Linked DNA regions of Homo sapiens: all the other regions are linked to region 3. The links come from fine-mapping of genetic effects on gene expression. A gene starts in region 3. Each other region holds a variant in brackets. All regions are shown on one strand. Distances are between the middles of the regions. Region 1 overlaps NUFIP1 (nuclear FMR1 interacting protein 1). Region 2 overlaps GPALPP1 (GPALPP motifs containing 1). Region 3 holds the start of GPALPP1 (GPALPP motifs containing 1).

What was found.
Region 1: its variant is fine-mapped to the expression of GPALPP1 in whole blood (TOPMed, PIP 0.97).
Region 2: its variant is fine-mapped to the expression of GPALPP1 in blood mononuclear cells (TOPMed, PIP above 0.99).

What each region holds. Positions count from the first base shown.
Region 1 is chr13:44,932,602-44,939,812 of GRCh38, reverse strand. NUFIP1 (nuclear FMR1 interacting protein 1) reads left to right here. Exons shown (of 10, transcript NM_012345.3): 10 at 1-564. Among named protein-coding and RNA genes, the nearest start is that of TRE-TTC2-1, 18 kb to the right of the region's middle. The variant A/G (reference allele first, on the strand shown) is at 3,372.
Region 2 is chr13:45,026,075-45,033,285 of GRCh38, reverse strand. It overlaps GPALPP1 (GPALPP motifs containing 1), which reads right to left. Exons shown (of 8, transcript NM_018559.5): 8 at 2,981-5,501. The coding sequence ends at 5,283. Among named protein-coding and RNA genes, the nearest start is that of GPALPP1, 40 kb to the right of the region's middle. The variant A/C (reference allele first, on the strand shown) is at 4,075.
Region 3 is chr13:44,985,731-44,992,941 of GRCh38, reverse strand. GPALPP1 (GPALPP motifs containing 1) reads right to left here and starts at 3,404. Exons shown (of 8, transcript NM_018559.5): 1 at 3,200-3,404. The coding sequence starts at 3,287. NUFIP1 (nuclear FMR1 interacting protein 1) reads left to right here and starts at 3,471. Exons shown (of 10, transcript NM_012345.3): 1 at 3,471-3,917. The coding sequence starts at 3,506. RefSeq lists enhancers at 2,658-3,294, 3,221-3,410, 3,601-3,670, 3,295-3,933.

The DNA of each region.
Region 1 (7,211 bases), 53 kb after region 3:
GTTGATCCCCACACTGCCTTAAGGTATATTATAGAAACAGTTTTATTTTCCATTTTTCTTGTTTCCTGATAATAAATGTATTTAGGACTGAAAATACTCCTGAGTACTCCCTTGGCTGTATGTCTGACAGTCTTTAGCTATGGTGACTATTGTTTATTTTTAATGGGTATTTCAGATTCCAAGTGTATTTAAAATTTCTAAGGAGATATAATATAGCCTGTATGGTTTCTACTTTATGGAATTATATGGTCAATATTTGTAAATATTCTATGAGTTTTGGGTGGGTAGAGGGGTGCTTTGCCTGTTTTGGGTACAGGTTTTTTTGGATTTAGCTTGTTAATTGTTCAAACTTTCTGCCTTCTACATTCCTATCTTATTGTTCGTTTAATCAGTTTCTGAAATGTAAGCATTACATGACTATTGGTGAGTTGTGCCTTTTATAACTGAAATACTTTACTTTTTCTCATATCCTCTATAATTGACTTCTATTTTCCTTAATCAAACCAGCTCTGGGAAATTTAATACATTTATATTAATTGAGATTATTAAAACATTTGGACTATTCCTGGCTGTCTTACTTTGTATTTTCTATATATCATGCTCTCTTGTTTTTATTTTGTCATCTTACTGGCTTGTTATTTTTTTCTCCTTGTTATTCCTCCAGTGGTTTGGAAGTAATTAAACCTATTGCTATTTCTTTAGTGATTACCTTTTTTCTTTAAGTTTAGAGTTAATTAGTAGCCACATCTTCCATCCATCTCCCAATTAAGTCAGTAACCTTAGCATTGTTTCACTTCCCCACCTCAGCCTCTTTTTGTGATGTAATCAGATACGATTTTAGTTTTAGATTAATCCCTGGGATCTTGGTGCGTATGTGTAAATAGTTATTAGGCCACTGTGAGTTTTACTGTTTTCTTCTGATTGCTTTCTCTTGCATCCCAGGATTAGTTTTCTGGTGTGCTGCTGCATATCTTCAAGTAATTAAATGTTGAATCTTCAATTTAAAGTTTTTTAAATTGAGTTATGGTTTTAGACTCAAAATCATTTTCCTTTGGAATTTTGAAGCTATAACAATCATTTGCTGTTATCCAGTATTGTTGATTAAAGTCACACCAATCCGATTACCTCTCTTTATTTATTGATAAGTAACCTATTTTTTCCTCATGAAAAACTTTTGGGGTTTTCTTTTTATGCTTGGAGTCCTAAAATTTCACCAATTTGTGTCTAGATCTCTGGGACATTTGTCATTCATGCTGCTTACCCCCACGGTCCTTTCATCTGAGTCATTGTACCATTCTTGTACTAAAAGGCAATTTTAAATAAGATTTTTAAAATTATTTTTCTTAGGTGGATGTCAAACCTATTAACTTACCCTCTACACTATACTTCTGTATTTTGTCTTGATCTATTTATTCTGAAAGATTTCTTCAGATATCACCTTCCAGACCACTAATTCACTCTTTGAACATATCCATTACCTTATTATTCAGCTCTTCTATTTCATTTTAAATTTAGTAATTCTTTATTTTTTAGAGACAGGGTCTCACTCTGTTGCCCAGGCTGGAGTGCAGTGGCATGACCATAGCTCACTGTAATCTCAAACTCTGGTGCTCCAGTGATCCTCCCACTTCAGCCTCCTGATTAGCTGGGACCGCAGGCACGCACACCACTATTAGCCTGGCTACTTTTTAAATTTAAATTTTAATTTTTTGTAGAGATGGAGTCTCACTATGTTGCCCAGGCTGGTCTCGAATTCCTGGCCCCAAGTGATCTTCCTGCCTTGGCCTCCCAAAGTGCTGGGATTACAGGTGTGAGCCACCTCGCCTTGCTAGTAATTTGTATTTACATATTAAAGATTGCTGTCTCTAATTCTTTTTTCTCTTCTTTTTCTTTCTTTCTTTTTTTCTTTTTTGAGACAGAGTTTCACTCTTGTTGCCCAGGCTGGAGTGCAATGGTGCGATCTTGGCTCACCACAACCTCTGCCTCCTGGGTTCAAGCGATTCTCCTGCCTCAGCCTCTTGAGTAGCTGGGATTACAGGCATGCACCACCATGCCTGACTAATTTTGTATTTTTAGTAGAGACGGGGTTTCTCCATGTTGATTAGGCTGGTCTCGAACTCCCGACCTCAGGTGATCTGCTTACCTCGGTGCTGGGATTACAGGTGTGAACCACCATGCCCAGCCCCAGCCCCTCCCTCCCCCGCCCCCACCTTTTTTTTTTTTTTTTTTTTTTTTGAGACAGTGTTTTGCCCTGTCACCTAGGCTGGAGTGCAATGGCACTATCTCGGCTCACTGCAACCTCCACCTCCCGGGTTCAAGCGATTCTTCTGCCTCAGCCTCCAGAGTAGCTGGAGTTACAGGTGCGCACCACCACGTCCGGCTAATTTTTGTATTTTTAGTAGAGATGGCGTTTCACGATATTGGCTAGGCTAGTCTCAAACTCTCGACCTCAGGTAATCCACCTGCCTTGGCTTCCCAAAGTGCTGGGATTACAGACGTGAGCCATCACGCCCATCCTCTAATTCTTGTTTCATACATGTAGTACCCTTACATCTCAGAGGAGATCAATCAGAATTTTCACATTTTCTGTTCCTTGTTTTCCCCTTTGATTATCATTGGCTCTGTGTGCTGTCTGTTGTCCTTAAATGTTCCCCCTTAGCTAGGAAAGAGGGATTCCCTCTTGGTAGTTGGTGTATGTTTTCCCTGCATTTGTATAAGCTGTCTTTCTGCATTTAACCTTGACTGAGAAGGGAGCTTGTTAACTGGCTGAAGATTTAGAGTAGTGGTCCCCAACCTCTTTGGCAGCAGGGACCAGTTTCACAGAAGACAATTTGTCCATGCACAGGGCAGGGGGATGGTTTTGGGATGAAACTGTTCAACCTCAGATCATCAGGCATTAGATTCTCCTAAGGAGTGCACCTAGATTCCTTGCATGCATAGTTCATAATAGGGTTTGCACTCCTATGAGAATCTAATGGTGCACTTAGATTCATGTACAATCTAATGGCGAAACCCTGTCTTTACTAAAAATATAAAAGTTAGCTGGGCATGGTGCATGCCTGTAATCCCAGCTGTGCCGGATGCTGAGGTATGAGAACCACTTGAACCCAGGAGGCAGAGGTTTCAATGAGCTAAGATTGCACCGCTGCACTCTAGCCTGGGTGACAGAGGGAGACTCTGTCTCAAAAAAAAATTAACAACAACAAAAAAGTTTGAGAAACAGTGTACTAGAGCATTGTCAAACAAATTCACCTAATGGGTAATTAACATATTGTGACTATGATTTACTGTTGTTAAGGCCCAGACTCTAGAGCTAGATGTTAACTTGTACATCATTTGATAAGCTGCAAACGATGATCTGGTAGAGTGGT[A/G]TGTTATTTTTCTGTGATAGAAAAGAGGTTACAGTTTTTTAGCCTTGTAGAACATTAACCACATTAGCATTTAACTATGAGATCTTATTCCAGCATTCTTCTGTGACATTCTCTTTTGTCATCTTGCAGGGTCCTATGGTAATAAGTTTAATAAGTTTTTTGACCTGTGCTTACTTTGTTATGTTTTTTACTTTCTGAAAATTATTATTTGACTAGTACATGAGAATTTCTTTTTACCCATGTTCTTACCAATGTATTACAAATCTTTCTACTAGTTTTGCCAATGCGTGAAATGTGCCAGTGTGTAAGATGTATCCTAATTTAGAAAAAAAAATTTAAATTTTCCTCAGAGTTCAGCTGGGGATTATCATTCAGGTGCTTCAGGAGAGTGTGAGACTGGAAGAAGGACCAGGTAGTGTCCAGGCCTCCTTTTTCATACCCCACATGGCTTTTGGCTAGGGAGTTGTGCCTTTCCTTCTGGAGCACCCTCTACCCTGAGGACTGATCCAGTCAGTCAGCAGCCCCCAGTCCAGAACAGTAGTGCAGGGATCCCAGTGTTGGACTTTTCAAACACAACACAGGTTACATTTAGATGACCTTACTGAGAGTCAAGAACATCCCACAACAGCAAATATGGTAATGTTACTCTGTCAGGTGAGAATGCCTTTTTTTCTCTTGCATTTCCCTGACACTAGTGAAGCCATGCATTTTTTCAAATATGTATATTTTTGGCCCTTGTATTCTGTGACTTGTCTGTTCTCATCCTTTCTCTATTTTCCTGTTGTTTTGCCTTTTATTCTTGATTTGTACAAATACTTTATTATAGATCTCAATCTTTTGTTAAATATTTCAATTTCTTGCTAGTATTTTAACTTTTGCAGAGGTTGGATCTGTTACTTTGGCTTTGGGGCTTTGTGTCACCCCCCAATACATATTTTTTTCTATTACTTTTGTGATACTACATATCAGTCTTTAATCTGTTTTCCATATGGTATGAGATAGGGATCTGTCAGGTTTTTCTTTTAAATTCTCTATTTTATAGAAGTAGAGAAGAGGACCTTCAACTTTTTTTGTTTTTGCTCTAATCCCCTTACTTTTACAGGTAACATGGCCTATCTTCTTGATAATGCCTTCTAGGTTTTGTAGGGTTTTTTTCCTTTGAACATGATAATACCATATACCACAGCAAACAGTTCATTATTATTATACAATTTTACAGTTAGTGTTTTTTTTTTTTTTTCTATCTTCAGGGGCAGAGTAATTTACTCAAGCCTATCTTTTCTTCCTTCCTGTGCTCTTTTCCATTTTCTTAAAACTATTAAATTGCTTCCTTGTTTTATTAGAGTCATAGCAGCAGCCACTTCATAAATTCTGATTTTATGTACTCAAAGGTTGCTGCCTGTAACCACTAAACTTTCTGAAACTATCCTAACCAATAATTACACACTTTTTACATGTTAAGGCGACCACTCATTTTTTTTTTTTTTCACTTCTTACCAGGGCTGTGGCCTTCTTAAATCTTGTGGGAAGTGAGTCACATATCATTGTCTTGCTTAAGAGCTTCTGAGAAATGTAAAATTACCTCTAAGAGACCAGTCAATATTATTTGTAGATCAGCTGCATAAATTTCAGCATATGGGAAAATTCTTGAAAATGCTGATACTTGAAAATGAATCTATGATATTATCTGTTCTTTCAGCTCTGGAAGGTTTTTTGTTTGTTAACGTAATATTGTCTTAATTCATCCCATATTTATTTGTATGTTTATTTAAAACAGTGCTGAGGCTGGGTGTGGTGGCTCACGCCTGTAATCCCAGCACTTTGGGAAGCCAAGCTGGGCAGATCACTTGAGGTCAGGAGTTTGAAACCAGCCATAGCCAACATGGTGAAACCTTATCTCTACTAAAAATACAAAAATTAGCCGGGTATGGTGGCAGGCACCTGTAATTCCAGCTACTCCGGAGGCTGAGGCATGAGAATCACTTGAACCTAGGAGGTGGAGGTTGCAGTAAGCTGAGATTGTACCACTGCACTCCAGCCTGGGCGACAGAGTGAGACTCTGTCTCATAAATAAATAAATAAATAAAAAATACTGAGTCACGATAGTAGAAAATCCATTTCCTCGCAGAGGCAGAGAAAAAAGTTCTGAATTGGGTGCCTGTTTGTATTACAAGGCTGGATGATTTTCTTTTTGATATTTTGAAAGGGATATTTTCCAGAACAGATTTTTAGACTGCAGCTAAAAGCATAATGCTTGAATTTGGTAAGCACTTATTAAGTCTCATACAGTTTGTGGTGGCTGTGATGATATAAGACTGAGAGACAAGGAGAAATTTCTCAACAAATGTCAAAATTGGAAGTGTCTTATATTGTTTTAAAATTGGGAAGAGCTAAGGAGATGGAAGATATAAATCAAATAATGTACTGAGTTGGACTGGCAGAGCCTGAGGTACTTACTACCCTTAATTACTTGGCAAGGACAAATGACACTTGGAATTAATTGCTCACTGTGTCAGACAATGTGTTACTTTGATATAGACCAGTGGTTCTCAAACCAGGATGATCATCTCAATATAGATTCCCAAGCCTTGCCCTGAGATTTCAATTTTTGTAGGTATTGGGGTGTGGCCCAGGAATATTTTAACAAGCTCCCAGTTGCTTCAGATGATCAGACAGGTTTGGGAAGCACTGATTTAGACTATTGTCTGTGCAACAGGAACCCTTTTTGTGGGGCTTTTTGCTTGTTAAAATTCAGATTGCTGAGCTCCACCTCCCATATTTCTGATTCATAGGTTTTGAGTGGGGCCTTTGAATTTGCTTTTCTAATAAGTGTTTAGGAGATGCTGATGTGGCTGGTCCTGGGACCACACTTTGAATACCACTGACATAGACCATCCCCAAGACTCCTGGGCACACTCAACAAAGAAAAATTCCATAGCGAGGTCTCCAGTTTTTGTGGCTCAAGTTTTTGCATTTCCTTTTCATGTTCTACTTCGTGATTTCTTTTTTACCCTGGAATGAGCATTAACTGATGGACCTCTGTCCCAGGGGAAGGTTTGGAGAGGAAAGAAAATGAAGTCTGTTGACTAGGAAGGTGGTAGTATAAGGAAAGTATCCCAGAAGTTGTGTAGCTGTGGGCAAAACCCTCGTTCTGTGACCTTGGTTTTACTGTGATCTGGCAGGTCTCCTCATCTTCCTGAGCTCCAGCCATGCTTCCTCAGTGTGCTTCCGCCTGCCAGGAGGCGTTTGCTCTTCTCTAAGTCTGGAAAGCTCTTCTCGTTTCCCTATTGTCTTATTGCTTGCTTAAACTTGAGTCTCTGCTTGGTCATCGCTTCCTCAGGAAGCCTTTGCTGACCTCCCTCAGTGGGTCACTCCTTTTATACACACTCAGCACCATGTACTTGCCTATCTCAGCAGTTACCACAGTGGCAGTTTTTTATTTCCTTGCGTGATAATTTGATTTGTCTCTCTCCACTAGACTGTAACCTCTGTGCTTTACAATGTAAAAAACCGTATCTGTTTGTGTTCCTATTGTGTTCCGGCCTCAGGCACTGTGCCTGGCACATAGTAGCTGAATGAGCAGCAATGAATGGGGTCACACTGTACAAACAGAGTGGCAAGGGCAGGGTAGGTATTCCAAACTTGGCTGCATTTCTGCCTGCGTGTTTCTAGAAGATACTGCTATTCTTATAATTTCCTATTTTTTGCTCAGATTCATTTCTCTTATTTTCCAGAGTCCTGACAGTACGACTACTATTTATTGAGTGCTGACTACATAGGCCAGGCATCAGCTATGATCTCACATTTGACACTGATTTAGGAGGTCAAGAATCTTAGTCT
Region 2 (7,211 bases), 40 kb before region 3:
TCCTCTTAGGTGTAACTCAAGAAATAACTTTTTTCTAATAATACCTATCACTGCATGGAAAAAATGAAAAGAGAAGTGATAAGGGCCTCCTATTAGTAGTTTAATATTAACATTATCTACCCTCAATAAGAAACAAAAAATGTCATAATGTTTTAGGATAAAATTACTTATACAATAACCATTGATCTATTCTGAAGCATGTAAGCCTTGGTACCATGCAAATCTCAACCTCACTTTTTTTTTTTTTTGGAGATGGAGTCTCGCTCTGTCGCCCAGGCTGGAGTGCAGTGGCGCGATCTTGGCTCACTGCAACCTCCGCCTCCTGGGTTCAAGCAATTCTTCTGCCTCAGCCTCCCGAGTAGCTGGGACTACAGGCGCACACCGCCATGCCCAGCTAATTTTTTGTATTTTAGTAGAGACAGGGTTTCACCATGTTGCCCAGGCTGGGTCTCAAACTCCTGAGCTCAGGCAATCCGCCTGCCTTGGCCTCCCAAAGTGCTAGAATTACAGGCGTGAGCCACCGCACCTGGCCAATCTCAACCTCACTTCTAAATAAATCGTTAATACAAAGAATCATTCAGGCCAGGCGCGGTGGCTCACGCCTGTAATCCCAGCACTTTGGGAGGCTGAGGTGGGCGGATCACCTGAGGTCAGGAGTTCGAGACCAGCCTGACTAACATGGTGAAACCCCGTCTCTACTAAAAATACAAAAATTAGCTGGGCACGGTGGTGGGCGCCTGTAGTCCCAGCTACTTGGGAGGCTGAGGCAGAAGAATCGCTTGAACTCGGGAGGTGGAGGTTGCAGTGAGCCGAGATCACGCCACTGCACTCCAGCCTGGGCAGCAAGAGTGAGACTCCATCTCAATAACAAAAAACAAAACAAAGAATCATTCAAGGTTAAGATGATAAATTAAATGTCAAGTGGTTGCTACATCTAAACAAGATCTACATCTAAACAAGGTTGCTAGCATCTAAAAACTCTTAGATCAGGGCTTTTCTCTTTTTTCTTTTTCTTTTTTTTTAGAGCAAGACTTAATTTACCATGTTGTGCCTAATACAAAAAGGATTTCATTTATCTGGTAAGGCAGTCTTAGTAGGGGTGTAGCCACCATCTCTCGTGTTTTGTTCACCCCTTACTTCCCCACTTGCTAAACCCAATAACCCCACCGTTTACTTACCAGTAATGTGGTTACTATTTGAAGCATCTAAATCTATTGGAGATGACAATTTAGAGAGCTGGACAAAAATCATATAATTTCAAGTATAACAAACTTAAATGGCATATTCAATGGTAAGAACATTAAAAGTATCTGCTCCATTATATTAACTTAGTGTTGCTCTTTTTTTCTTCTTCATTTTTAAATTTCAAAAGAGGCCACATTCCTATGACACTTGGCCAAGAAATGTAGGAAATTAAAAAGTCCTTATTAAAATGTCTCCTGCCAGATGGAAAGGAGACTTGATTCAATTAGGCCTTTTGCATCTTTGGAAGTGGGGAGGGGATGAAATAAAGACACCTTTCCGTCCTGTGCAATAACTACTTTGTCCTTTTGTTGTCAATATTCTTGTATTGGGATTAGTCTCTCTGTGGGGCAAAACAACCTCTGAAACTGGCCTTACATTTTGTTAAAATTATCCTCAGGTTGGCACAAAAGAGCATTATCTCCAAGGCCAGTAAGGTAGTAACTCCTGGAAGCAATAGGCGGAAAGCAGAGGTTTCTCTCCTTCATGCCAAGGTCATGGTCACTCCAAAGGTGAGGGATGAAACAGTAAATATATAATACAGAAATATCCCTATTCTCTTTAAATGAGGAAAACAAAGAAAAGTAAGTATCCAAAGATAACAATTTTACTTTAAAAAATGCAAATTTCTCAAAAATATATGTTAAGAATTTACATAAGGAAGAGGAGCTACAAAATACTTTTTTCCTTTCATTGGGAAAAAATTATAACAAAATTAAATTAATGCAATGGAGACACTCTTGTACAAAATTTTGTGTTCAGAAAATACTGCTCATTAAAAATGACATTTTTAGTCAAAAGGTAGCTCTGTTCAATTTTGAGTACACAAGAAGCTTTTTCAATTTGCTTAGGAGAAAAATTCATCTATTTATTTACTTATTTATTTAGAGATGGAGTTTCACTCTTGTTGCCCAGGCTGGAATGCAATGGTGTGATCTTGGCTCACTGCAACCTCCGCCTCCTAGGTTCAAGCAATTATCCTGCTTCAGCCTCCTGAGTAGCTGGGATTACAGGCACCCGCCACCAGGCCCGACTAATTTTTATATTTTTAATAGAGACAGGATTTCACCATGTTGGTCAGGCTGGTCTTGAACTCCTGACCTCAGGTGATCCACCCACCTCGGCCTCCCAAAGTGCTGGGATTATAGGTATGAGCCACTGCGCCCAGCTAATTCATCTTTTTAATAGCAATGCTCCTTTAGTTTGCTATGGTTTACACTGATGCTATGGAAAAAATATACTGTACTGCTATTATTAGAGGAAGAATAATTTGTACCATCATATAAACAATATACTCAATTTTCATAAAGCTTACATGAACTGGGAATCAGAATATTTTTCCATTAAAAATTTGTGTCTTGGCCAGGCATGGTGGCTGATGCCTGTAATCCCAGCATTTTGGGAGGCCGAGGCAGGTAGATCACCTGAGGTCTGGAGTTCGAGACCAGCCTGGAACAATATATAGTGAAACCCCATCTCTACTAAAAAATACAAAAATTAGCTGAGCATGGTGGTGCACGCCTGTAGTCCCAGCTACTTGGGACACTGAGGCAGGAGAATCGCTTGAACCCAGGAGGCGGAGGTTGCAGTAAGCTGAGATCACGCCACTCTACTCCAGCCTGGGTGACAGAGCAAGACTCCATCTCTCAAAAAAACAAAAATAAACAACAACAAAAATTTGTGTCTCATCAAAACTAGAATACTAGTGGAACAATTGGGATTAATCTGCAAGAAAATATAACTTATAGAATTGGCATTTATTTAACAATAGTTTAATAGTTTAAATAGAATTTCTCATCTTATAAATTTATCATCTTAAGAGGCAGTGCTTAAAGCATTACAAACTTATAATACTCCCAATTAGGGGGGTTATGATTATAAATTTTCCATTTCCATTTTTGTATTCAGGGATTATTAAATTTTTAAAAAAGGCTATTCATGACTGATATGACCCCCGTAAATTAGCTAAAAAAAAGATATGACCCCATAAATTAGCTACAAACTGTTAAGTACAGCATATAAATGGGTAAAGTAAAGTTGTCCCAAAGCAAAGTTCCAGGACTCAGAAAGCTTTGGTTGAGATCAGAGATTGAGTCTTACAGATTTCACAATGCTAACAGTTAATGGCATATCTTATCTTGATTGCCTCCCCTAGAAATACTAACTATTAAAGTTGGAAAAAGCAAAATAGTTTTTCCTTAGCACATGAGATAACCCAGAGATCTTTCTGACTTAAAAACAATTAAAAAATTAAATAACAAATAAAAAGCCCTGAGTGCTAAAACAAGCAAACTGATTACAAAACAGGCAAAACCCCATACCCTCTATTTTCAAGTAAATTTGTATTCACTGGCTGCAGTTTAAAGGGAAAAAACAACAAATTTCAAAGTCATGGATTTACAGTAAGGACTTGACACACTGACTCTAGGGCAGGTTAGGTATATTTCACAAGGAGGTCCAGGCTGTGGTAGAGATTTGGTGGTCAGTCCTGACCAGACCTTAGAGGGTACTTGTGAGACACCACAAAAATCAGGGGGAATGGAAGCCTCTTAAAATAATTATTTGAAGAAAAGCCCATAATTCCCCATACTTCCACAGAAGCTAAAGGCACATAGAATATTCTGTTCTACATAAAAAACATTCGTTTTATGTTTCCACATGACCTTAAAAGGACATACAGAACAAGGTAAATTTGTATGTTTTTTAAGATTAAAGTAATCTCTAATCTTAAGAAGCCAAAAACAAAGAAATAAAGATGGACAAAGAGTATTCTTCAACTTTTCTTCATTGCACAGGGAAATCCCCCTGAGGTAAGAATAAGAAAACTCAGTA[A/C]GTTGGAAAATATTTCTAAATTTAACATATTTTCCTCAAAAATCACATTTGAATATTGATATAGGTTTAATACAATTAAAAATCATAAAGATATTAAGAAGCAACCTCAGCTTTTATGTAATTTCTTTTCTTCTCTTTTTCTTTCTTTTTTGAGACAGAGTCTCTCGATCTTGTCACCTAGGCTAGAGTGCAGTGGCACGATCTCGGCTCACTGTAACCTCCACCTCCCGGGTTCAAGCAATTCTCCTGCCTCAGGCTCCCAAGTAGCTGAGATTACAGGCACGTGCCACCACACCTGGCTAATTTTTATATATATATATTTTTAATAGAGATGGGGTTTCACCATGTTGTTCAGGCTGGTCTCGAACTCCTGACCTCAGGTGATCCACCCGCCTCACCCTCCCAAAGTGCTGGGATTACAGGTGTGAGCCACTGGCCTCTTTTTTTTTTTCTAAAGAGACGAGGTCTCACTTTGTTGCCCAGACTGGAGTGCAATGGCACAATCACAGCTCACTGCTGCCTTGAATTCCTGGGCTCAAGGGATCCTCCCACCTCAGCCTGCTGAGTAGCTGGGACTATAGGTGTGCTCCACTGCACCTGGTTAGTTTTTTGTAGATACGGGGTCTCACCATCTTAAGCAGGCTGGTCTCAAACTACTGGGCTCAAGCGATCCTCTCACATTGGCCTCCCAAAGTGTTGGGATTACAGGCGTGAGCCACTGCACCCAGCTTTATGTAATTTCTTAATCACCATTCTGAACCCTTGTCAGATTGGGCTATGGATGAATATTGGAATAGTTTTGAACCTTAACTTATAGGGGACCTTTCTAAGCAACAAACATTTCCTAGTTGGGATTTTGTTTAACATACAAACAACCAGCAAGCCTTTCTTCATCTTTAATAAAGCATGCATATTTACTCAAGTATCAAACCACACCTTCCTTTGCCATTTCTCATAAGCTGAATTTTTATTTTAGCATTTTTAATAGCAATGCCCTATTAGGTTATTATGAGGGATTTTTCCAGTAAGACATATTTTTCATCCCACAAGGCTGACTTTTCAAAAATCACTGTTTACTTATAAAAATATAAAATTTTTAATCTATTATAAAAGGAAATAGATTTCAGCACAATTATTAAAGACAATAGAGTATTTAGAAAAGTTCACATTGATCAGTATTAAAATATACCTCACTGAAATATACTTACTTATAAAAACATATTGCCTTTGCCGTGTGAAAATCTGGTGTTTAGTTCTCTAGATTTTTTTATTAGGGCTTTTTTCTGAGCTTCATCAAACCGATTAACCTTGAGATCTTTATCACGGTCAAATGGTATTCTCTCTTGAGGCTTATTTTTGTCTTCAGCAGCCTTACTCTTTAACTTTTTATGATGTATGTCCATAAGAGATTCTGATCTTTTTGATTCCTGGAGAGAGCAGGAGAGCAGAAATAAAAACTATAGTTTGTATATAGATTATTGACAGAATATGACCATGAAACGGAATAGATAGTAATGGTGCACATTAAGGAGGGCTATTTACAAACCCCAGTAGTTTTTTTTTTTCCAAATCCAAGACAGCATTTATAAAGAAAATATGTAATGAAAAGCATTATGGTTATTTAAATACTAAACATCAGAGTACAAACCAAGAACGGGGTGTGAAAGAAAGAGCAATCATATTGTCACTTCATAGACGTGCTGGTCTTTGAAGGCTAAATGGACGGATAGGAAGGAAAGGCACTGTCAGGCTGAAGCAAAAACAAAGGTAAAAGAAAAGTAGTAAGAACACGGATGTGGCAAAATTCAAGGCCTGTGCAGCATATGTTGGCATGTTCCATAAGCTAAGATAATTTTTGTTCCTTTCAGTTTTCTGTCGTTCTCTTTTTCCCTTAATTCCCTCAATTTTTTTTCTTCTTAGCTAGGGTAGGTGTTCACATTTTCAGATGTATCTAGTAAGACAAAGTCTGAGCAAAAACAATTGATTTAATAAACTAGGGATTGACTACAGACCACTGAGTATTGACTAAGGTAAAGGATAGAACAGTCCTGGATGGAAGGAGCAGGGAGGGAGATGGAAAAGGAGATGCAGGTAGTACAGACCAGCAGCCTTCAATCTGGGGTATACGTATCCCTGGGTGCTACAGAGAGTAGAGTCTATGGAGTATGAAGGCATGGGTAATTTTAAGGCTATTTTTCCATGATTCTCTACTTCTTCATGTAGTCTTTCTTACAATTGATTTGGCCTAGACTACCTCTTGTGAAGATGCCATCCCTTTCATTATAGCCCTTTCTCATTTAACAAAGGAGGCTATAGAATATTGTTTAGGAAAGCAAAAGTCTTCAGGGTATGAGACAAAAAACCTAAAATACCGGTATGATTGAAACTTCCTTTAATCAAGAAACTGTAAACACAGGAGGGTTCTGTGTCCTTCTGTGTCTGAAACACATTTCTCCTAAGAGTGTAGTGTCCTTTAGAAATGGGTATTTTACCTTTTATTGAAATGTTCTGAATTCAGATATATTGAAGAGTGGGTAATGGAAGAAAAGACAATTTTTGCTTAACAACCATACCTCTTCCAGGCCCTTCCTACTGCCAAAGAATGTACTTGAGGGGGAAGGAGTGAAGAAACCTCAGTGAAAGCAAAATAACAAGGCACTAGTAAAAAATGCTGAAAGTGACAGTATCTTATTTTATCTAGAAGGTAAAATGGCACCTAGATCAGAATTCAGAGTGTCATATGAATGGTCATTAACACATTTATTTGAATGGAAAAAGTGAATCAGAAAGTAAGTCTGGTCTGGCTGATCTGACAACCAGAAATGACTTTGTCAATTAGATTATGTGACAGCCATGTCTCATAAATTAACTGAACTCAATCTGGAGCCATAACGTTTTAGCAGAATGTACAAAAGATACATTAGTAAATATGTATTTAAATTGACACTATTCACATTTTCCTATTTCTGCTCAATATACTGGGTTAAGCAAAGTACTTCTTAAGTATTTTATAAATATTGATAAAGTCTTTAGAAACAAACTGATTAGCAAATCAAGTGCTTTCCAATTCTTTATGTTCAACAAAATTGAAGGAGATAAAAAAAAAATCATCAAATATTGCTAAGAAAAAATAGGTA
Region 3 (7,211 bases):
TTATTGTTTAATGGGAATAGGTTTCAGTTTTGCAAGATGAAAATAGTTCTAGAGATGGATGGTGGTGATGACCGCACAACAATGTGACTGTACCTAAGTGCCACTGACCTATATGCTTACAAATGGTTAATATGACAGATGTGTATATTTTACCAGAATAAACAAGAAAAAAAACTAGATGCATATATATGGTTGCCTGATTTATAAGGAAGGTGATAGTGGTGAAAGGATGGTCTGTTCAATAAATGGTGCCAGGATACCCTTACAGGGGCAAAAAATTTTCATCCCTATCTCACACCACACACAAATATCAATTCCAGATGAATTGCAAATATAAATGTGAAAGCTGAAACAATAATGCTTTTAGAAGAAAACACAGAAGAGCTTTATAACCTTGGGGTGGGCAAAGATAGCTTAAATAGGATGCAAAAAATTCTACCATAAAAGAAAAAAATTAAAAGTCAGAATATATTAAAATTAAAAACTTATGTTAATCAAAACATACCAACATGAGTGAAAAAACCACAGAATTAGAGAAGATATTTCTGATACACCTATCTGGAAAATGACTCATATCCAGACTATAAAAAGAACTCTATAAATCAATATGAAGACAGACAACTCAATGGAAAAATAAGCAAAAGACTGAACACAGCATGTATTCATATGGTCAAATAACACATGAAAAGGTGGTCAATTTCATTTGTCACCAGGGAAATACAAATTAAAACTACCATGAGATATTGCTACAAACCACCGGATTTAAAAGAAAAAAACTAAATATTAGAATGTGGAACAACTAGAATTCTCATACACGCTGAGAACTTTGGTGACTTTGGAAGCTGGGAGTATCTACCATAAGACATATACTACAATGCATAGCAGCACATTTTATAACAGCCTCCAAATGGAAATTACTCAAATGTTCATCCAACGTAAAATGGATAAATTGCAGAACATTCATCTAATGGATGACTATATAGCAATGTAAAGAAACAACCTATAATAATTCTGTTTGTTTAAAGACCAGATTATGAACTTCAACAATCTATAATAATGCTAATCTACATGAATGAATCTCACAAAGTAATGTAGTACCAAGATAGGAAGCCAGTTATGAAAGAGAAAACATGCAAAACGAATCTGTGATGCTATAAATCAAGGAAGCAGTTACCCTCTGGTTGTAGGAGGGGTGGTGATGCAGGTAATAACTGGAAGATGGTCCAAGTGCAGCTTCTATGGTGTGATATAGTGGATGTGAAGGCCATTGGTACTGGCAAACTTCTTAAAAATCCAGATAGATGAAATAAAAATGATATATGAAGATTTTTTGGCAACCGTTTTAGGTTCAGCCATCTAGGCGGTTATGAAGGGAATGGAATTATAGCAGGGGAGATTATGTGTTTAAAATGACACACTACGTGTAAGATATTGTGCTTGACGAAGAGAAGTCATTCAACAAATATATACGAAGAATCTTTTTCTTTTTTTTTTTTGAGACAGAGTCTCACTCTGTCGCCAGGCTGGAGTGCAGTGGCGCGATCTCGGCTCACCGCAACCTCCGCCTCCCAGGTTCAAGCAATTCTCCTGCCTCAGCCTCCCAAGTAGCTGGGACTACAGGTACGTGCCACCATGCCTGGCTAATTTTTGTATTTTTAGTAGAGACAGGGTTTCACCATGTTGGCCAGAATGGTCTCGATCTCTCGACCTCGTGATCCGCCCGCCTCGGCCTCCCAAAGCGCTGGGTTCACAGGCGTGAGCCACCGCACCTGGCCTTATTTTATTTTTTTAAAGCTATCTCCTACAGGAAGGAAAGCATAATTTTTCACATTTACTTTTATTTATTTATTTATTGAGACAAACTCTCGTTCCGTCGCCCAGGCTGGAGCGCAGTGGCACTCTCGGCTCACTGCAACCTCCGCCTCCTGGGTTCAAGCGATTCTCCTGCCTCAGCCTCCAGAGCAGCTGGGATTACAGGCGCCCGCCACCACGCCCGGCTAATTTTTGTATTTTTAGTAGAGATGGGGTTTCAACATGTTGGCCAGGCTGGTCTTGAACTCCTGAGTTCAAGTGATCCGCCCCGTCTCAGCCTCTCAAAGTGCTGAGATTACAGGCTTGTGCCACCTCGCTCAGCTGGAAGGCATAATTTTTAAAGTGGTTATGACAGAAATTATATTGGAAAGGGGCCTGTAGTAGAAACATAGCCTCCGGGTAGACCAGGAAGAAAAATTAGATTCAGAAATGGCAGGGTTACTCTTTCAGCTTTACTCTTCTCCAACTGGGTGTCGGTGCTAGTCTACAAATGTGAATAAACATTAAAGCAGATAGGTATGCATGCCGGAATCCGAGAAGCATTCGTTTCGTATATACCAAGTGCCTGTTGCGTGTTCAGGTAGAAGACCATAGTGCAATGGTGGAGACAGATTATGTCGACAAATTATTCAAATACAGTGTACTAAATATGCAATGTAATTAGGAAAAAACCCGAGGGCAAAAAGAAAGGCATGACAATGCTTCGGGGAATCTGGAAAGGTTTTATTGGTGTGACATTTAAGTTGGGCCTTGAAGGATGGGGAGAAGTTTGTCAGTTATGTTTAGGAATGCAACCAGAGGAAGCCCAGAAGCCTAGAGCGTTAAGGAATTGCGCAGCAACTCAGACTGGATTGAGTATTGGGCTGTGTTTGTCAGATGCAATAACAGAATGAGAGGCTAGGAAGGCAGGTCGGGGGCTGGAGAGAACAGGATCTGCAAGGTTCTTGTAATCAGAAGGCAATATGGCACAGAGGTTAAGAGAACCGCTTCCTTCTAAGTCGCGCTCCATCACTTGCTAGCAGTATGATCTAGACACTGGCATGGGCTTGGGCGTACCCATTTGCAACATGGGAAAATAGTTTTTTTCTTATACGGCTTAAATGACTGAGTGGGTATCAGTCAGTTAGGGCAGCGTGCAGCTCATATTAAGGCTAAATGAGAATGTATTATCATCACGAAGCCAAACCACGCCAAAGCTCGTTTCTAGGAGGGTCCCCCAGCCTCCTCCCCCCTGCTACTGTTTGGGAAGAGAAAAGTTCTCTCGGGTCAGGCCGCGCCCACTCCCCACTCCTCCGCCCTCCTAGGCCTCCGACTTTCTTCAGCGAGCAGGGCCCGGCCAGGGAGTGGGTAGATGGGCCTGGTGGGCAGCGGAGACGCCGCCGCTTACCAGGGCTCGGGTCCCGCTCTTCGTCCTCCGCTGTTCCGCGGGCCTTGAAGCCGGGCGGCAGGGCCGGTCCGATCAGGTCTCTTGCCATCCGCGGTGGCGGACACTGGTCACAGATATGAGTCTATCCACGAACGTCAACCCTATCCAAAAAGAATCCCGCGATCAGCAGCGAAGAATGGCAGGTTTCCCGGCGCCGAGAAATGACGTAAAGCCTGTGGTTGGCTGAGCCTTGTAGTTCACGGTAAAGGAAGTGACGCCTAATGCTTGCTCCACAGTCGCGTGCTAGACTCCGGACCCGCCAGTGGTATGGCTGAGCCGACTAGTGATTTCGAGACTCCTATCGGGTGGCATGCGTCTCCCGAGCTGACTCCCACGTTAGGGCCCCTGAGCGACACTGCCCCGCCGCGGGACAGCTGGATGTTCTGGGCAATGCTGCCGCCACCGCCACCACCACTTACGTCCTCGCTTCCCGCAGCCGGGTCAAAGCCTTCCTCTGAGTCGCAGCCCCCCATGGAGGCCCAGTCTCTCCCCGGGGCTCCGCCCCCCTTCGACGCCCAGATTCTTCCCGGGGCGCAACCCCCCTTCGACGCCCAGTCTCCCCTTGATTCTCAGCCTCAACCCAGCGGCCAGCCTTGGAATTTCCATGCTTCCACATCGTGGTATTGGAGACAGTCTTCTGATAGGTTTCCTCGGCATCAGAAGTCCTTCAACCCTGCAGGTAGGCTATTTTTCCACGTGAGTCGACCCCTTTACCTTTTTCCCCCGTTCTTTCCTCTCCCCTTTCTCTGCTTCCTCTCTCTACTCTGCCTTGCCTCTGCACTCTTGGAGTCTGGTCATTAGCATCTCAAAGCAAAGTGAGACCCCCGTCTCTACAAAAAAAATAAAATTAGCCAGGCATGGTGGCATGCCTGTGGTCGCAGATGCATGGGAGGCTGAGGCAGGAGGATTCCTTGAACCCAGGAAGTCGAGGCTGCTTTATCAACTAAGTTTATATAATATTGTAAATCCTTTGTTCTCAAAATATGTCTGACTAGAATGTTTTCCTGTTGACTGTTAATTCCATTTAGCAGTTATTTATTGAATTCCGACTATGTACCAGAATCTGGGTATATAGCAGTGAGCAGAACATACAAAAAATATTATGGAGCTTAATATTATCTCTCTTGTGTAGGAAGACAGACAATAAGCAAAATAAAATATTGTGCATTAGAAGGTTGAGTGGCATGGAGAGAGATAAAACAAAGAAGAATGGTAAGTAGTGCAGGATTTTCTTTTTTTCTTTTTTTTTGGAGACAGAGTGTCGCTCTGTCGCCCAGGCTGGAGTGAAGAGTAGCGCGATCTACTTCACTCCAGCCTATGCAGTCTCTGCAGAGAGGCTCACTGCAACCTCTGCCTCCCGAGTTCAAGCAATTCTCATGCCTCAAACTCCTGAGTAGCTGGGACTACAGGCCCACGCCACCACACCCGGCTAATTTTTTATATTTTTAGTAGAAAGGGGGTTGCCCCGTGTTGGACAGGCCTGTCTCTAACTCCTGAGCTCAGGCATCCGCCCGCCTCAGCCTCCCAAAGTGTTGGGATTACAGGCATGAGCCACCACGCCGGGCCAGGTAGTGCAGTTTTAAATGTCATTGTTAGTCATAAGGAAGGTGACATATGAGCGAAGACTTTAGGGAGGTGAGAGATCACAGCCATGCATACAACTGGGAGAATAGGGGTACGGGCAGAAGGAACTGCAAGTGCAAAGGTCTTGAGGCTTAGAAGCTATACATCAGAATGGGAACCAGTGTGGCTACAGAGGACTGAGTCTGGAGTATAATTGTAGAAGATGGGGGAGGAGGGTAAGACCTGGTATGTCTTTGTAGATCGTGGGACTTTGACTTTTACTGTTGTGAGGTGGGTAGTACAGCGGATTGACATGACCTGATTTACGTTTTAAGAGGATTAATGTGTCTGTTGGTGAGAACTGACTGAAAGGGAAACCGGTTAGGAAGCTATTGTAGTTACTTTTCTAAACAAGAGATATTGGAGACTTGGACCAGGGTGAAGCCCAAGGGATGGTGAGAAGTAGTTGGATTCTAGATCTGGGGATACCTTGGAGCTCTTGTGGGTTCAGTTACAGACCACTGCAGTAAAGCAAGTCACACAATTATTTTTTTTTTGGTTTTCCGTTGCATGTAAAAGTATGTTTTCCTGCAGATCCTATGGGGCAAAAAAGTTATTTTTACATTATACCATAGTCTAGTAAGTGTGCAATACCATTATGTCTTAAAAAACAACTTACATACCTTGATTAAAAAATACTTTAGGCTGAGCAGGGTAGCTCACACCTATAATCTGGGCACTTTATTTATTTTTTTTTTTAATTTGTTGAGACAGAGTCTCTGTTGCTCAGGCTGGAGTGCAATGGCGTGATCTTGGCTCATTGCAACCTCCACCTCCCAGGTTGAGGTGATTCTCCTGCCTCAGCCTCCCGAGCAGCTGGTACTACAGGTGCCCGCCACCATGCCTGGCTAATTTTTGTATTTTTAGTAGAGACAAGGTTTCACCATGTTGGCCAGGCTTATCTCGAACTCCTGACCTCAAGTGATCCATCCTCCTTGGCCTCCGAAAAGTGCTGAGATTACAAGCGTGAGCCACTGCACCCAGCCTAATCTTAGCACTTTGAGAGGCAGAGGCAAGAGGATTGCTTGAGCCCAGGAGTTTGAGACCTGCCTGGGCAACAAAGTGAGACCCCCGTCTCTACAAAAAAAATAAAATTAGCCAGGCGTGGTGGAATGCCTGTGGTCCTAGAAGCATGGGAGGCTGAGGCAGGAGGATTCCTTGAGCCCAGGAAGTCGAGGCTACTTTATCAACTAAGTTTATATAATATTATAAATCCTTTGTTGTCATTTCAACAGTGTTCACAGCATCTTCACCAGGAGTAGATTCCTTCTCAAAAAAGCACTTTCTTTCCTCATCCATAAGAAGCCACTTCTCATCCATTAAAGGTTTACCATGAGATTGCAGCAAGTCACATCTTGTGGCTCCACTTCTTTTTTTTTTTTTTTTTTTGAGATGGAGTCTTGCTCTGTTGCCCAGGCTGGAGTGCAGTGGCTCGATCTTGGCTCATTGCAAGCTCTGCCTCCCAGGTTCACGCCGTTCTCCTGCCTCAGCCTCCCTAGTAGCTGGGACTACAGGCGCCCACCACCACGCCCGGCTGATTTTTTTGTATTTTTAGTAGAGATGGGGTTTCACCATGTTAGCCAGGATGGTCTCGATCGCCTGACCTCGTGATCCACCCACCTCAGCCTCCCAAAGTGTTGGGATTATAGGCGTGAGCCACTGCGCCTGGCCCCTCCACTTCTAATTGTAGTTCTCTTGCAGTTTCTACTACATCTGAGGTGACTTCCTCCACTGAAGTCTTGAATTCCTCAAAATCGTCTATGAGGGTTGGAATTTCTTCTTTCAAACTCCTGTTAATGTTGATCTTTTGACCTCCTTCCATAAATCATGAATGTTCTTAATGGTATCTTGAATAGTGAATCAAAACCTCCTTTCTAGAAGGTTTTTAATCTACTTTGCTCAGATCCATTAGAGGAATCACTATCTATGAATCACTGTGGATTTCTTTCAAGAACTTTTCATCCAGACACGGTGGCTCACGACTGTAATCCCAGCACTTCAGGAGGGCAGAGCAGGAGGATCCCTTGAGCCCAGGAGTTTGAGGCTGCAATGAGCTATGACTGCACCTTTATATTCCAGCCTGGCTGACAGTGAGACCCTTTCTCAGTAGTTGCATTCACAACTTGGCTAGCCGTTTGGCACAAGAGGCCTGGCTTTTGGCTTGTATCAGCTTTCAACGTGTCTTCCTCACTAAGCTTAATCATTTCTGGCTTTCGATTTAAAATGAGAGACATGTGACTCTTCCTTTTGCTTGAACACTTAGAGACCATGATAGGGTTATTAATTGGCCTACTTTTGAATATTGCGTCTCAGAGGATAGGGAGGCCTGAGGAGAGGGAGAGGAGAACCA